Homo sapiens: one gene and its partner. Each later gene encodes a partner of the first gene's protein in a complex. Each region holds a gene or a part of one and is shown on either strand. Other genes may lie near its edges. A codon is read from its position in the direction of its gene.

The links.
Region 2: the proteins of NR5A2 (region 1) and NR0B2 are in contact, whole or in part, in a crystal structure (PDB 1YUC), measured with the Homo sapiens proteins. Residues at the interface, in NP_995582.1 of Homo sapiens: Phe354, Val357, Arg361, Phe366, Val371, Asp372, Gln374, Met375, Leu378, Gln379, Asn529, Asn530, Leu531, Glu534, Met535; in NP_068804.1 of Homo sapiens: Arg17 (codon at 1,552), Pro18 (codon at 1,555), Ala19 (codon at 1,558), Ile20 (codon at 1,561), Leu21 (codon at 1,564), Tyr22 (codon at 1,567), Leu24 (codon at 1,573), Leu25 (codon at 1,576), Ser26 (codon at 1,579), Ser27 (codon at 1,582), Ser28 (codon at 1,585).

What each region holds. Positions count from the first base shown.
Region 1 is NC_000001.11:200,044,658-200,048,472, forward strand, and holds part of NR5A2 (nuclear receptor subfamily 5 group A member 2), read left to right. Parts: intron 1-785; coding exon 786-927; intron 928-3,514; coding exon 3,515-3,815. UniProt on the Homo sapiens protein: Orphan nuclear receptor that binds DNA as a monomer to the 5'-TCAAGGCCA-3' sequence and controls expression of target genes: regulates key biological processes, such as early embryonic development, cholesterol and bile acid synthesis pathways, as well as liver and pancreas morphogenesis.
Region 2 is NC_000001.11:26,910,938-26,915,443, reverse strand, and holds NR0B2 (nuclear receptor subfamily 0 group B member 2), read left to right. Parts: upstream 1-1,468; 5' UTR 1,469-1,503; coding exon 1,504-2,035; intron 2,036-3,039; coding exon of another isoform or gene 3,040-3,131; exon of another isoform or gene 3,132-3,357; coding exon 3,358-3,599; 3' UTR 3,600-3,955; downstream 3,956-4,506. Other genes in the region: nuclear migration protein nudC, read right to left, coding at 4,209-4,301. UniProt on the Homo sapiens protein: Transcriptional regulator that acts as a negative regulator of receptor-dependent signaling pathways. Specifically inhibits transactivation of the nuclear receptor with which it interacts.

The DNA of each region.
Region 1 (3,815 bases):
GAAAATCCCTCCATTCTCTATAACAAAGTAAGAATGTTTCTCTTTGTGGCAAGTGGGTTAAATATGAATACTATCCTGGTAAATCTCATATTATAAAGCTACACATTTTATTTTTGATTAATTCTTTTATATAAAATATAAGGAAAGCTCATACCCTGTGTGCTACAATTCAGCTATCTGTGATACATGCTTTTTCCTTCCATTAGTTTTGCCTTTTTAAGAACAGTTCCCATACTTGAATGTATTCCAGTGGAATTATGAGCATTTTCCCATTTTACTCTTTAAATCCTTTTGCTTTTAACTATCCAGTGTTGACATTTGTTAAAAAAAAAAAAAAATCTGAGGTGTTTTGCTATTCAGTTTTTTCCACTGGCATTTTGCAATGGTTTATCACTGAAATTATATCAGACTACTTAAAAACAATGCCAGGACTTCATGAGTACCTCTATCAGGAACATGTGGGATAATAGGAAAATAGATTAAAAAAAAATTTATCTATATAGAGTGTATTTTTTCTGACTGTTGGGATAAAATGGTGGGTAGCCAAATCTCCCCAGGATTTGACGTAATTCTTCAAGAATAAAACTGATGCCAGAAAAATCTCCACCATGGCCTGGCACAGTTTGGGAAGGTTGATGTTGCTGAAATGTAAAATAAACCACAGAACCACATAAGGGCTCAAATAGTGCAATGAGAGGATTTACTGGTGATTTTCTTAAAATGAAACAATGGAAAAGACGGGTGTTAGATTTATAATACGTCTCACTATTTTCTCTGTCTTATAGGGATTTTTTAAGCGAACAGTCCAAAATAATAAAAGGTACACATGTATAGAAAACCAGAACTGCCAAATTGACAAAACACAGAGAAAGCGTTGTCCTTACTGTCGTTTTCAAAAATGTCTAAGTGTTGGAATGAAGCTAGAAGGTAAGATTCTTCTAAAGACTACTGCCTATTAAAACTCTCCAAGGACATGAACTGTAAAACAACATTGTACTTATAGCATGGTAACATTATTTTCCCAGCATTTTAACACTACCGACAATACTGTAAGATCTTTCTATGTTTCATCTGCAGAATAGTCTGAGTCTCATTTAATCATGGTGAAATCTACTAGGAAAAAAATTTAAAATATTAGTTGTCTTTCCCCTGCCCACCCCCTTTTTTTTAGTCTGGGGAGCAGATGCATTAGACACAAAAAAGGGAAAAAGATCAGGTTATGAAAATAAGACTAAAGCAATCCAACTGAAAACAAGAATAATTTGTAAAACTATTAAAAGTAAAATATTCTTTGAGTTTTTAAATCAAGATACCCTTGGAAAAGTTTGATTTCAATTCTTTTTAAAAGAGGTGTGCTTGTCACAAGTGTTAACTACTAATTTCATGATTCTTAAGAGTTAAAGCCTTTAATGGTGAAAAGGAGTTTCTCATGTAGGATATTATCTTTGATAGTGTAGAAATGTATTTTTTTAAAAGATAATGACTGAGGCTGCAAAATAAAAAATTGAGAATCAGGAAACATGAAAAATAACGAACTATTAAATCATTAGCAAAGGTCTGAAAAGAACAAGAAAGTGGCTCCTGAAAAGCCACACTTGAACTTTGTTGAAAGAGCAGACCCTATACTACAATGTACAGATTGGCAGGCAGTAAAGTTAATATGTGACTGCTGTAAATAATTTGTAGTTCATGGACTACTATGGTATGTTGCTGCTTTCTAGCCTCTGACCTGCTTGCTTTCCATGGATTAAATATACTGCAAATAAAGCAATAACAGGGATACATATCACCGATGGTGCTAGATACAAGAGTGCATTTTATTTGATCAATGAGGCACAGGCTATTTTTATTTGGAACTTTTCTGTTATATGGAACTCATACTTGATAGAAATACTAAAAAAAAAAATCATATAAATCTGCTGAATAGCTAACACGCTTCTTCCGAACAGAGGTAGCCACTTTGGTTATTATGAGGACTGTTAATGTCAGTATCATTTTTAAGAGATCATGAAAGGAAATAATTGATGCTTATTAATTTTCTTATTACCAATCACTATTATTTCCCAAATAGCAAAATATTGTGGTAGATGCTTACTACATACAGTAAGAGACTCAGAAGATAAGTAAATGTTGTGATTTTGCATGATGTCATTTAATTCCTTTTCAACAAAAATAATAAGGCTGCATTTCTTTACCTTAAATAATTAAACTTTCTTTTTTTTAAGTTAAGCTTTCACAATTGTAAATCACTTGTGGTACATGCTCATGCTTCCTTAGGAGTGATATGAAACAACTGAATATTCAATAAATTATCATCCAGATGAAAAACTCTTTATAATCTTGTGCAATATTCTGTATACTTAGAATTTACAATAAATTTTTAATGTGATACTAATCCAAGATAAAAAGCTCAAAAACTTAACCTCCAGCAAGTTCAATATGTCACAAGCTATCAGAGGTCTCTAGTTTCTGTCTAATTGCCATTGGCCACTATGGACTTAGAGGGAACTGCTAACTAACTTATTAGTCATGGCCGCAGACTCCACACACCACTGTCGCAGAAGACTCTCTTGACAGCTTCTGAAATGAATTTGTTTTAATTATGTCCAATTCTACTTAAATTAAAAGCAGTAACTGGTGGTCATCTGATGTGGGCTCATCAAGTCCAGGTGAACATGATTTTCCAAGAACATGTCCCCACCCCTTTTGTTATTGCAACAAGGTGGCCAAAATGGCTTTCAGGGAGGAAGGTATCTTGTGGGAAAGTATTCACAATTTAATCCAAAATTGGGTAACTCAGTTCCACACCCCTGCAAAAGAAAACCCCAAAGCAGTTTGGGTTTCCATAAGGAACTGGCATAATAAAAGCATATACTCTTAGTAGAACGACTGATACTCTTTCTTAGCAATGTGAAATATTTCTTTTCTTTTTTTTGAGACAGGGGTTTCACTCTTGTTGCCCAGGCTGGAGTGCAGTGGTGTGATCTTGGCTCACTGCAACCTCCACTTCCCGGGTTCAAGCGATTCTCCTGTCTCAGCCTCCTGAATAGCTGGGATTACAGGCACCCACCACTACGCCTGGCTAATTTTTTGTATCTTTAGTAGAGATGGGGTTTCATCATGTTGGCCAGGCTGGTCTTGAACTCCTGACCTCAGGTGATCCACCCGCCTTGGCCTCCCAAAGTGCAGGGATTACAGGTGTGAGCCACCGCACCACGCCTATGTGAAATATTTCTATGTCTAACAAAAATTATGAACTCTCCTCCATCCACAAAAGGGTTAATATGTCCCTATGTGGCCAAAGTATTTTTTTGATGACGACACACACTTGGAGGAAGGAATTCATAAATAAAGAGGACATGGTTTTTTGGGAAATCTTTGTGGGCTATTGTAACGAAAACAACCACACACATACCACTTCTTGTCGATTTACATTTCTAAATATCTGAAGAATGCTAATAATTTGCACCTTATTTATACCTTTCCTTCCTTCCCCCCACCCCACCCCCAACAGCTGTAAGGGCCGACCGAATGCGTGGAGGAAGGAATAAGTTTGGGCCAATGTACAAGAGAGACAGGGCCCTGAAGCAACAGAAAAAAGCCCTCATCCGAGCCAATGGACTTAAGCTAGAAGCCATGTCTCAGGTGATCCAAGCTATGCCCTCTGACCTGACCATTTCCTCTGCAATTCAAAACATCCACTCTGCCTCCAAAGGCCTACCTCTGAACCATGCTGCCTTGCCTCCTACAGACTATGACAGAAGTCCCTTTGTAACATCCCCCATTAGCATGACAATGCCCCCTCACGGCAGCCT
Region 2 (4,506 bases), about 170 Mb from region 1:
CACCATCTGAGAAAGATGCCCGGGACAGAGGAGCCACGTGGCAGCAGAGCAACACTTCTGCCCAGATCACAAGTGGGCAACGTCTGCAAAGCAGGCAGCAGCAAGGTGGGGGCAGCTAGCCACAAGCTCTGAGAATCTCAGGCTCTGGCTGTGCAATTGGGCCAGTGGGTCCAGGGAAACAAACAAGGACTTTGGAGTCAGGCAAGATCTGGGCTTTGTCTTCCTGGTGGGATGACCTTGGGCAAGTCACTTTAGCTTTTTTAGTCTCATAAAGTAAGAATCTAGCCTTAGGAAGAGGCTGCCAATATTAGAGTGGGAAGTGCCTGACACATAATAAGTGCTTAGAGAATGGCAACCATATATATACATATATATATATATATATGTATGTATGTATGTGTATATATATATACACATATACATATAAATATACATATACATATACATATACATATACATATACATATATATTTTTTTGAGACAGGATCTTGCTCTGTTGCCCAGGCTGGAGAGCAGTGGCATGATCTCAGCTCACTGTAACCTCTGCCTCCCAGTTTCGAGTGATTCTTTTGCCTTAGCCTCTAGAGTAGCTGGGACTACAGGCACATGCCACCATGCCCGGCTAATTTTTGTATTTTTAGTAGAGACGGGATTTTGCCATGTTGGCCAGGCTGGTCTTGAACTCCTGACCTCAAATGATCCCCCTTCCTCAGCCTCCCAAAGTGCTGGGATTACAGGCATGAGCCACCGTGCCCGGCTGGCAACTATCTTTTATTATAATTCTGTGAGTTCTTCTCAGCAGACCTGGCCTTTCAGGAGTGGTAGGAATCAGGCTGGGGATAAGGATTCTGAAGGACCTTATTCCTGCAGGGGGCCCAGAACTGGAATCAGAGGAGGAGGCCTCCTAGATTGGACAGTGGGCAAAGTCCTCCCAGCCCCCAGGGTCCTGGCTCCCTTCCCTGTAGCCTGCTTCTGGCTGACAACAGAAGCAGGGCCCCAAGGTTAGGCAAACAAGCTAGTGATAAGGCACTTCCAGGTTGGGCCTTGCATTCAAGGCCCACCCAGCTCTGGGGCTGGCTTCCTGGCTTAGCAAAAGCCCTAGTCTTTTGTGCACACAAGAGCGGGCACCAATGGGGACACCTGCTGATTGTGCACCTGGGGCCTTGGTGCCCTGGTACAGCCTGAGTTAATGACCTTGTTTATCCACTTGAGTCATCTGATAAGGGGCAGCTGAGTGAGCGGCAGGTGGCCCTGTGCCCTGCACCGGCCACTTCATTGACTGAGGTGATATCAGTGCCACGTGGGGTTCCCAATGCCCCCTCCCCCACCACTTCCCCACCATTCCTGCCAGGGGCAATGTCTGTGTGTTTTTTTCAATGAACATGACTTCTGGAGTCAAGGTTGTTGGGCCATTCCCCCCGTTCCACTCACTGGGAATATAAATAGCACCCACAGCGCAGAACACAGAGCCAGAGAGCTGGAAGTGAGAGCAGATCCCTAACCATGAGCACCAGCCAACCAGGGGCCTGCCCATGCCAGGGAGCTGCAAGCCGCCCCGCCATTCTCTACGCACTTCTGAGCTCCAGCCTCAAGGCTGTCCCCCGACCCCGTAGCCGCTGCCTATGTAGGCAGCACCGGCCCGTCCAGCTATGTGCACCTCATCGCACCTGCCGGGAGGCCTTGGATGTTCTGGCCAAGACAGTGGCCTTCCTCAGGAACCTGCCATCCTTCTGGCAGCTGCCTCCCCAGGACCAGCGGCGGCTGCTGCAGGGTTGCTGGGGCCCCCTCTTCCTGCTTGGGTTGGCCCAAGATGCTGTGACCTTTGAGGTGGCTGAGGCCCCGGTGCCCAGCATACTCAAGAAGATTCTGCTGGAGGAGCCCAGCAGCAGTGGAGGCAGTGGCCAACTGCCAGACAGACCCCAGCCCTCCCTGGCTGCGGTGCAGTGGCTTCAATGCTGTCTGGAGTCCTTCTGGAGCCTGGAGCTTAGCCCCAAGGAATATGCCTGCCTGAAAGGGACCATCCTCTTCAACCCCGGTGAGCTCCCAGACACTCCTGGGTGGGGGGCAAGGCTGAAGCAGGGGCCAGCCAGGGAAGGTAGCTTCTAAGGGTTTGATATCTGTTATCTCATTGGGTCCTCATTTTCTTTTTATTTTTCTGAGACAGAGTCTCACTCTGTCACCCAGTCTGGAGTGCAGTGGTGCGATCTTGGCTCACTGCAACCTCTGCCTCCTGGGTTCAAGCAATTTTCTCTGCCTCAGCCTCCCGAGTAGCTGGGATTACAGATGGCCGCCACCACTCCCGGCTAATTTTTGTACTTTTTAGTAGAGATGGGCTTTCACCATGTTGATCAAGCTGGTCTTGAACTCCTAACCCCTCAGGTGATCCACCCACCTTGGCCTCCCAAAGTGCTGGGATTACAGGCGTGAGCCACCGTGCTTGGCCAGTCCTCATTTTCATCAAATAGCCATCTCACAGAAGAGGCACAGAGAAGCTAAGTGACTAGCTAAAGGTAACACAGCCAGGTAGGGACAGACCAGGATGGCAACTCAGGTCTATTCACTCCAGAGACTGGCCCTTGCCACTCTGCCTGAGAAATTTGCTCTGACCTTTACAGAAGGCTGTGGGGAGGTGGGGTGGGCAGACACAGCTGTGTCTCAGTCACATCCTCAAAGGAAGGCTGCATGGTGAAGCTCTAGAGCTAAAACTCCTCTGTGGGTTCAGAAAGATCACATAGAAGAGATGACTGAAAGGGGCGTAGGGAGGACAGGAAAGGAGTCTTTATGGAATTCGGCCAGGAGAGCGGCAGATGGAGACAGTGCTGTTTGTAATCTGGAGAGCATCTGAGATGAGAGTTCCCCAGGAGTCCCTTGTGGCACGCATAAATCGTAGTAATTAATTGTAATAATAGTAGCAAATACTCATATCACACTTACCATATGTTAGGCCCTATTCTAAGGGTTTTACATATACTAGTTCATTTAAATCTCATAAAAGCCTAGGAGACAGGTCCTATTAATATTATTATTCCCGTTTTACAGATAAAGAAACTGAAGCCCAGAGATTAAGTGACTTGCCCAAGGTCACCCAGCTAATAAGTGACAGTGCTGGGATTCATACCCAGGAAGCCTAATTCTTAACCATTACTCCACACTGCCTCTTCATAAATGGATGGATGAATACATTGAAAATTGATAAATAAATTACCTCCTCTAAAGGAGGAGGTAGTAGTGGGACCTCAAAGGCCGAGCAAAGGAGGCAGAGGGGTGTCTCTGATGGCCCAGATCTTGGGCCAGTCTTGTCCTTTGGTGGCTGGGAGTAGGGTGCTCACCAGCCCTCTTCTCCCTCTCTGCCCACAGATGTGCCAGGCCTCCAAGCCGCCTCCCACATTGGGCACCTGCAGCAGGAGGCTCACTGGGTGCTGTGTGAAGTCCTGGAACCCTGGTGCCCAGCAGCCCAAGGCCGCCTGACCCGTGTCCTCCTCACGGCCTCCACCCTCAAGTCCATTCCGACCAGCCTGCTTGGGGACCTCTTCTTTCGCCCTATCATTGGAGATGTTGACATCGCTGGCCTTCTTGGGGACATGCTTTTGCTCAGGTGACCTGTTCCAGCCCAGGCAGAGATCAGGTGGGCAGAGGCTGGCAGTGCTGATTCAGCCTGGCCATCCCCAGAGGTGACCCAATGCTCCTGGAGGGGGCAAGCCTGTATAGACAGCACTTGGCTCCTTAGGAACAGCTCTTCACTCAGCCACACCCCACATTGGACTTCCTTGGTTTGGACACAGTGTTCCAGCTGCCTGGGAGGCTTTTGGTGGTCCCCACAGCCTCTGGGCCAAGACTCCTGTCCCTTCTTGGGATGAGAATGAAAGCTTAGGCTGCTTATTGGACCAGAAGTCCTATCGACTTTATACAGAACTGAATTAAGTTATTGATTTTTGTAATAAAAGGTATGAAACACTTGGAGCCTGATACTGTCATTTGTGCATATGGAAGGGACTGTCTCACCTCCAGGGCCCACCCTGCTGCTATCAGAGGTAGCCCAAGGGAAAAAATCCACAGGGTTGCTGGAGCTAATTTTCCAGGGAACAGTATCAGTTCACAATCCCATCACCTCATTGTCTTTATCCTCAGGGGAAGGAGGTTGCTCTCCCATTCCCAAACCCTTCACTAACCGCTCCCCTGGCTCCTACCCACTTCAGGCGCCCTCTTACCACAGTGAAAGCCCAATCACAGCCAATCAGGAAGCAGCCCACTCCCGAATTGAAACAGACAAGTTCACTGCCATTTCTGTAGTTTGAGATCATTCACTTCCCCCATTCCTGCAGATGACAAAAGAGAGTGGTCCATTATTTTCCCAAAGGGAAGGGACAAGGGTACCCAGGGCTGGCCTGGCAACTGCTTGAAGGCCAAGGCAGACCAAGGTTTAGCTGGACCACCAGGATTTGACTACATCAGTTGTTTAAGTCTGAAACCCTTCCATGACACTTGGCTCACAGCCACCACCCTGAG